Homo sapiens: one gene and its partner. The protein of the gene in region 1 interacts with the protein of each later gene in a biochemical or structural test. Each region holds a gene or a part of one and is shown in the gene's direction. Other genes may lie near its edges.

The links.
Region 2: the proteins of RECQL4 (region 1) and WRAP53 form a complex in vitro, tested with the Homo sapiens proteins (one study listed by BioGRID).

The regions. Positions count from the first base shown.
Region 1 is NC_000008.11:144,514,862-144,519,457, reverse strand, and holds the start of RECQL4 (ATP-dependent DNA helicase Q4), read left to right. Parts: upstream 1-1,624; 5' UTR 1,625-1,673; coding exon 1,674-1,757; exon of another isoform or gene 1,758-1,822; coding exon 1,823-1,856; intron 1,857-1,949; coding exon 1,950-2,044; intron 2,045-2,267; coding exon 2,268-2,408; intron 2,409-2,693; coding exon 2,694-3,470; intron 3,471-3,567; coding exon 3,568-3,694; intron 3,695-4,000; coding exon 4,001-4,132; intron 4,133-4,215; coding exon 4,216-4,308; intron 4,309-4,385; coding exon 4,386-4,522; intron 4,523-4,596. UniProt on the Homo sapiens protein: An ATP-dependent DNA helicase which unwinds dsDNA with a 3'-overhang in a 3'-5' direction. Does not unwind more than 18 bp of dsDNA. May modulate chromosome segregation. The N-terminal domain (residues 1-54) binds DNA Y-shaped DNA better than ss- or dsDNA.
Region 2 is NC_000017.11:7,691,360-7,695,159, forward strand, and holds part of WRAP53 (telomerase Cajal body protein 1), read left to right. Parts: intron 1-3,800. UniProt on the Homo sapiens protein: RNA chaperone that plays a key role in telomere maintenance and RNA localization to Cajal bodies. Specifically recognizes and binds the Cajal body box (CAB box) present in both small Cajal body RNAs (scaRNAs) and telomerase RNA template component (TERC).

The DNA.
Region 1 (4,596 bases):
CAGTGTGGCATCGTCAACAACTCGCTTGCTTGGGTATGCTTTTGACAGATGCCTGTTGCCTTGCAGGGCCCCCCATGGGTACTTCAGGCCTCTCAAATTACAAAGCTGCTTCACAAAACCTTCTTCGAAACCTGAATAAAGCCCAGGACTCTCCCCACCAACCTTCATCAGCATTAGTATTGACGGGACACTCTAAGGAGTCAAGCAGCCAAATCACCTTTCCCTCCCCTCTCCTCACAGATGCTCTCCAGGGCTACACTTGGACTCCACAAAACACCAAAGAGCTGGAAGCACAGAAGCAGCTTCATAAGCAACAAGGCAGGTTGAAAAGACCGAGACCCAGGGAACACCGAGTCCAGATGATGTAGCCTATAAAATACAAGCCCCCGCAAAAGCTACTATTCTCCAGAGCGTCACCAAGCACGGAGACCCCGAAAGAAAGCAACCCTCACCTTTGTTGGCCCTTACCACTGGCCTAAACCTCTCCCTCTTCCCTGGAGAGCCACTGTGGAAAGACCAAGTCTTAAGTATGTGGGATTCAGAAGGTGCAAAGCTACAGACTGCTCAGACAAGGCAAAGAAAGCTGCCTCAGCAGCACCCAAGCTGCAGAGATGCACAAACACTCCCAAGGCCACAAGGTACCTGTGACACAGGGTGCCAGCCCTGCTGCTGCCTGTAGCATCCTCAAAACTAAATCGCAGCCATCTCCCTGTGACAGATTAGAAAATGAAGGCCTCGGCCTGGCCCAAGGTCACAGCCTGAGTGACAAGCCAGGGAAGGGGGCCGGGGAAGACACTCTGGCCCCAAGGCCCTTCTTTTTGTCGACTTTTCCACATACAAGTAAGTCCTTAAGGCACCGGTTCCTGAAAAGTCCCAGACACCAACCCTCGGCCTAGTTCTGCCGGTGGACAGATCTCAACGATCATACTCGCTCTGACAGGACAGACCAACCGAGCACTTGTCACGGGAGAACACCAAAGCAGACGGCCTGCCCACCAAGGGAGGCAGGCACCTCCGTGCGACGCCCCCTCCCCTCCCGCCGGCCGCAGGGAACGCGACGGTCCTCGGTCGCCTGCGTTTCGCGAAGACGCCCCCGCCCGGCTCCTCCGGGCCTCGAGCCGCGGGAGGCGCTGGACCCTCCGCTCTTTCGCCTCCCGAGCGGGGCCTGCTCCTCCAGGTCGGATGCGTCTCCCACCAGGGCCTGACGCCGCTCCGACCGGCCCGGGGACTCCCAGTCCTTCCCGGCCCGCGGTGGCACCTCCCAGGCTCCCGGCCTCGGCCCCGGGCTCCCAAATGCAGCCACTGCCTCCCTCGGCCAGGCCGCCCCGAGCGACCGGTGCCCCGCCCCTTGAGGCCAGGCAGGGCCAGGGGCGTGCGCCGCCCCGCTCAGACACCCCCCCGGCCGCCCGCGCTCACCGGTCCCGCAACCGCAGCCACCGCCTCCAGCCCCGCCTAGACCGTCCGCCGCTCCCCGCCCGGCGCCGCGGCGCCCCGCGATGACGTTGACGCCTCCCATTGGCTGCTTGTCCGAGGCCCGACGGACTGGCTGCCCAGGGGCGGTGGCCCCGCCCCCGGCCCGCCGCGCATCCGCATTGGCTGTCGGCCCCCGCGACGGCTGCGCGGGAGATTCGCTGGACGATCGCAAGCGCGGAGGCCGGGCGGGCGCGCGCGCCATGGAGCGGCTGCGGGACGTGCGGGAGCGGCTGCAGGCGTGGGAGCGCGCGTTCCGACGGCAGCGCGGGCGGCGACCGAGCCAGGTGCGGGCTGCCCAGGGGCCGAGGGGCTGAGGGCGCGGCCCGCGGCTGACGCGTTCCCTTTACAGGACGACGTGGAGGCGGCGCCGGAGGAGACCCGCGGTGAGCGCGCGGCGGGGCGGCGGGGGCGAGAAGACACCGGGTCGGCAGGGGCCCAGGCCCCACCCTGACCCCGCCTCCCGCTCGCCCACGCAGCGCTCTACCGGGAATACCGCACTCTGAAGCGTACCACGGGCCAGGCCGGCGGCGGGCTCCGCAGCTCCGAGTCGCTCCCCGCGGCGGCCGAAGAGGTACCCAGGCCCCGCCGCCCCAGCCTCCTCCCACTTCCCTGTTTGGCGGAGTGGCGGGAGCCACGGAGTCGCGGCCAGGCCGCCGTGGGGCACAGAACTTGGGAGGGGGACTGGGCAAAGTGAAGAAGGGCCGGGCCTCGCTCCAGGTGCGGGAGGGGTGGCTGGGAGCGCTTCTGCCGCCACAACAGCCTTTTCTGGCCTGTGCCCCTGTTGTCTCCTGCAGGCGCCAGAGCCCCGCTGCTGGGGGCCCCATCTGAATCGGGCTGCGACCAAGAGTCCACAGTCTACGCCAGGGCGGAGCCGCCAGGGCTCGGTGCCGGACTACGGGCAGCGGCTCAAGGCCAATCTGAAAGGCACCCTGCAGGTGAGGAGTGGGCAGGCAGTGAGTCCACGCTAGGTCCACAGCTGCTTCCGGTCCGGGTCGCCCTCTTGTCATTTTTTCCACACAGACAGGCACGGGCCCCTGTGCCAACCAGGGCACGAGTCTTCAGGGAGCTTCTCGGGGCCTTCGCCCTTGACTCCCTTTCTAGTCCAGCCTTGTGCTAATTAGCCTGCTCTACAATTGAGCGTGGGGACTCAGGTAGGTTTTAGAGTCTACAGTAGCTCAGGGGCCTGAGTTCCTCCTGCTGTTCTGTTGTTCCCCTCCCAGGCCGGACCAGCCCTGGGCCGCAGACCGTGGCCTCTAGGAAGAGCCTCATCTAAGGCATCCACCCCAAAGCCCCCAGGTACAGGGCCTGTCCCCTCCTTTGCAGAAAAAGTCAGTGATGAGCCTCCACAGCTCCCTGAGCCCCAGCCAAGGCCAGGCCGGCTCCAGCATCTGCAGGCATCCCTGAGCCAGCGGCTGGGCTCCCTAGATCCTGGCTGGTTACAGCGATGTCACAGTGAGGTCCCAGATTTTCTGGGGGCCCCCAAAGCCTGCAGGCCTGATCTAGGCTCAGAGGAATCACAACTTCTGATCCCTGGTGAGTCGGCTGTCCTTGGTCCTGGTGCTGGCTCCCAGGGCCCAGAGGCTTCAGCCTTCCAAGAAGTCAGCATCCGTGTGGGGAGCCCCCAGCCCAGCAGCAGTGGAGGCGAGAAGCGGAGATGGAACGAGGAGCCCTGGGAGAGCCCCGCACAGGTCCAGCAGGAGAGCAGCCAAGCTGGACCCCCATCGGAGGGGGCTGGGGCTGTAGCAGTTGAGGAAGACCCTCCAGGGGAACCTGTACAGGCACAGCCACCTCAGCCCTGCAGCAGCCCATCGAACCCCAGGTACCACGGACTCAGCCCCTCCAGTCAAGCTAGGGCTGGGAAGGCTGAGGGCACAGCCCCCCTGCACATCTTCCCTCGGCTGGCCCGCCATGACAGGGGCAATTACGTACGGCTCAACATGAAGCAGAAACACTACGTGCGGGGCCGGGCACTCCGTAGCAGGCTCCTCCGCAAGCAGGTAAGACAGCGACGGGCCAGGACAGGCATTCCCTTTCCCTCCCCTCAGCCCTCCCGTATTTCCCGCCCAGTGACCCTCCTATGTGGGCACCCCCCAGGCATGGAAGCAGAAGTGGCGGAAGAAAGGGGAGTGTTTTGGGGGTGGTGGTGCCACAGTCACAACCAAGGAGTCTTGTTTCCTGAACGAGCAGTTCGATCACTGGGCAGCCCAGTGTCCCCGGCCAGGTGAGACATCTGCCCTGGAGGGTGGGTCCGGCCAACACTGTGGAGAGGGCGCAGTGCTCTTTTGGGGGACACTTATGTTCCAAGCAACAGGCCTTCCAGGTACCCCTGGTCCAGGCCCTACCCTAGCTCCCCTGAAGGAGGGTGGCAGGGACGACGATGGCTGTCACTCTTTTCTGCTTTGGAAAAAGTAGCCCAGAGGAAGGGCACTGCCTGCTGCCAACCCCCTTTGGGGGAAGGAGAGGTTGTGGCCAGTGGTTGTCTTGCCCGACCTGGAGCTCCCATTCTACCCTCTCCTGCCTGCCCCAGCAAGTGAGGAAGACACAGATGCTGTTGGGCCTGAGCCACTGGTTCCTTCACCACAACCTGTACCTGAGGTGCCCAGCCTGGACCCCACCGTGCTGCCACTCTACTCCCTGGGGCCCTCAGGGCAGTTGGCAGGTGAGCAGTCAGCTTCTGGCCCAGAGCCTTCACTGAGGGGTTGGGGTGACTCAAGTCATGGTGATCAACATCTGTGTCTGCAGAGACGCCGGCTGAGGTGTTCCAGGCCCTGGAGCAGCTGGGGCACCAAGCCTTTCGCCCTGGGCAGGAGCGTGCAGTCATGCGGATCCTGTCTGGTGAGCGTGGCTGCCAGGGCTGAGGCTGGGCTGAGGCCAGGCTGCAGAACCCTGCTGCTGACTCCCGCCCCATCCAGGCATCTCCACGCTGCTGGTGCTGCCTACAGGTGCCGGCAAGTCCCTGTGCTACCAGCTCCCAGCGCTGCTCTACAGCCGGCGCAGCCCCTGCCTCACGTTGGTCGTCTCTCCCCTGCTGTCACTCATGGATGACCAGGTGTGCACACAGGGCCCTGGGCACACGTACACAGCCAAGAACCAGCACTTGTGACTCCCAAGGGCAACTGCTGC
Region 2 (3,800 bases), on another chromosome or scaffold:
TTGGAGTTTATTTGGGAAGTCATGAGAGAGGTGTTTTTTTTTTTTTTTTGAGACGAGTCTTGCTCTGTCGCCCAGGCTGGAGTGCAATGGCGTGATCTCGGCTCACTGCAACCTCTGCCTCCTGGATTCAAGCGATTCTCCTGCCTCAGCCTCCCGAGTAGCTGGGATTACAGGCACCCGCCACCATGCCCAGCTAATTTTTGTATTTTTTTAAATAGAGACGGGGTTTTACCATATTGGCCAGGATGGTCTCGTACTCCTGACATTTGATCCGCCGGTCTCGGCCTCCCAAAGTGCTGGGATTATAGGCATGAGCCACCGCGCCTGGCTTAATTTTTGTATTTTTAGTAGAGACAGGTTTTGCCACGTTGGCCTGGCTGGTCTCAAACTCCTGACCTCAGGTGATCCACCTGCCTCAGCCTTCCAAAGTGCTAGGATTACAGGCGTGAGCCACCATGCCAGGCCATGAGAGAGGTTTTTTTTGTTTGTTTGTTTGAGACAGAGTCTTGCTCTGTTGTCCAGGCTGGAGTGCAGTGGCACCATCTCAGCTCACCGCAACCTCCGCCTCCCAGGTTTAAGTGATTCTCCTGCCTCAACCTTCCGAGTAGCTGGGATTACAGGCATGTGCCACCACACCCGGCTAATTTTTTTGTATTTTTTTAGTAGAGATGGGGGGTTCATCATATTGGCCAGGCTGGTCTCGAACTCCTGACCTTGTGATCTGCCCACCTTGGCCTCCCAAAGTGCTGGGATTACAGGCATGAGCCACTGCGCCCGGCCAAGAGAGTTTTAAAACAGAAGAGTGAATGGTTTATGGGTGGGCAAGAGTGAAATCCAGGGCCAGGCACGGTGGCTCACGCCTGTAATCCCAACACTTTGGGAGGCTGAGATGGGTGGATCACCTGAGGTGAAGAGTTTTAGACCAGCCTGGCCAACATGGTAAAACCCTGTCTCTACTCAAATACAAAAATTAGTTGGGGCTGGGTGCGGTGGCTGACTCCTGTAATCCCAGCACTTTGGGAGGCTGAGGCAGGTGGATCACCTGAGGTCAGGAGTTCGAGACCAGCCTGGCCAACATGATGAAACCCCATCTCTATTAAAAATACAAAAAATTAGCTGGGCGTGGTGGCGGGCGCCTGTAATCCCAGCTACTCTGGAGTCTGAGGCAGGAGAATTACTTGAACCAAGGAGATGGAGGTTGCAGTGAGCCAGGATTGCACCACTGCACTCCAGTCCAGGCAACAGTGTAAGACTCCGTCTCAAAAAAAAAAAAAAAAAAAAAAGATTGGCTATAGTTTTCTCCCACCCATCCTAATCAGGTTCTGCCTCCATCGCTTCCTGAAAGTGCTCTTGTCAAGGTCACTAATGTCCTCTTGGGTCATTCTCCTTTTTTTTTTTTTTTTTTTTTTTTGAGACAGAGTCTCGCTCTGTCACCCAGCTGGAGTGCAGTGGCGCCATCTCAGCTCACTGCAAGCTCTGCCTCCCGGGATCACGCCATTCTCCTGCCTCAGCCTCTCCCGAGTAGCTGGGACTACAGGCGCCCGCCACCACGCCTGGCTAATTTTTTGTATTTTTAGTAGAGACGGGGTTTCACCATGGTCTCGATCTCCTGACCTCGTGATCCTCCTGCCTCGGCCTCCCAAAGTGCTGGGATTACAAGCATGAGCCACCGCGCCCAGCCCCTCTTGGGTCATTCTCTAAATTCGCCTCACTGCATCTCTTAGCAGCATGAGTCACTGTCTCCACCTCCCTGCGCTGGAGCACTCAGGCACTCAGGGCTCTGCTGGGCCTTCTCCTCCTCCATCAGCACTCTTTCTTTTTTTTCTTTTTTTTGAGACGGAGTTTCAAAAAATCAGACCCACCAAGGCATGTGGCAGTTGTGTTGCTCTTTGCTCGGTACCCGCTAGAGGTCTGTTGCCATTAATTTGAAATGAGACCAGTTAGTGTGACTGTGCATCTTTCCTGGCAAGTTAAATGACTATAGTTTCTCTGTTTGTAAAATGGGGATGATTATAATAGCACCTGCCTCACAGAGTTGTGAGAATTAAAATAATCAGTAATGAATTAAAGCACTTAAGGCCGGGTGCGGTGGCTCACGCCTATAATCCCAGCACTTTGGGGGGCCGAGGCAGGTGGATCGCCTGAGGTCAGGAATTCAAGACCGACCTGGCCAACATAGTGAAACCCTGTCTTTACTAAAAATACAAAAATTAGCCGGGCTTAGTGGCGGGCGCCTGTAATCCCAGCTACTTGGGAGGTTTGAGGCAGGAGAATTGCTTGAATCCAGGAGGCGAAGGTTGCAGTGAGCTGATCGCACCACTGCACTCCAGCCTGGGCAAGAGAGCAAGACTTAGTCTCAAAAAAAAATAATAAAATTAAAAAAAAGTACTTAAAACAGCACCTAGCATATAGTAAGTGTTCGGTAAACACTAGTAGTCACTGGTATCAGTTGTGTGCAAGCCAAGAATAGGAGGATGGTATGGTTGAGGTTTACCAGGAGAGAAAGACAAGGGTATCCTGAGAGTGTCTTCAAGAGTGTGCATGCCATGGTGGACTAGAATCTACAGTGGGTAAGGAACTGGACTGTAAATAAGTTTTTGATGAAGCTGAATAAATTGTCATGGTAGAAATAGCAGAGCAGGGTCAGGCCTGGTGGCTCACGCCTGTAATCCCGACACTTTGGGAGGCCGAGGCGGGTGGATCACCTAAGGTCAGGAGTTCGAGACCAGCCTGGCCAATATGGTGAAACCCCGTCTCTACTAAAAAAGATACAAAGTTAGCCAGGCATGGTCGTGATTATGATATTAATGATTATAATATTAAAACATTTTAAAAAATATATCTTGCAATACAGATAGTCAATTTGTTTTCTTTTTTTCTTTCTTTTTTTTTTTTTTTTTTTGAGACAGAGTCTCGCTCTGTGGCCCAGGCTGGAGAGCAGTGGTGTGATCTTGCCTCACTGCAACCTCTGTTTCCCGGTTCAAGCGATTCTCCTGCCTCAGCTTCCTGAGTAGCTGGGATTACAGGCACGCACCACCGCACCCGGCTAATTTTTGTATTTTTAGTAGAGATGGGGTTTCGCCAAGTTGGCCAGGCTGGTCTCAAACTCCCGACCTCAAGTGATCCACCCATTTCCGCCTCCTAAAGTGCTGGGATTACAGGCGTGAGCCACTGCTCCTGGCCAGTCAGTTTGTTTTCAAAAGATTTTTGTGGCTGGTGTGGTGGCTCATGCCTATAATCCCAGCACTTTGGGAGACCAAGGTGGGAGGAATGCTTGAGCCCAGGAGTTTGAGACCAGCCTTGGTAACACAGCCAGATCCTGTCTCTATCAAAAAAGTTGGGCCTATGGTCCCAGCTACTTGGGAGGCTGAGGTGGGAGGATCGCTTGAGCCTGCGAGGTTGAGGCTGCCATGACCTTTGATTGCACCATTGTACTCTAGCCTGGGCGACAGAGTGAGACTCTGTCTCAAAACAAACAACCAAAACCTTTTTGTGCTTTTTTTTTTTTTTTTCCTGCTAGTGTACCAGTTCTATCGCAACCTCTCTCATTAGGTATTTTCATTTTTAGTGTCTACAAGCTTAGCATTTGAAATAGATAACTTTTTTTTTTTGAGATGGAGTCTTGCTGTGTCCCCCAGGCTGGAGTGCAGTGGCGCGATCTCAGCTCACTGCAAGCTCCGCCTCCCGGGTTCACGCCATTCTCCTGCCTCAGCCTCTCGAGTAGCTGGGACTACACGCACCCACTGCCACCACGCCAGGCTAATTTTTTGTATTTTTAGTACAGTCGGGGTTTCACCATG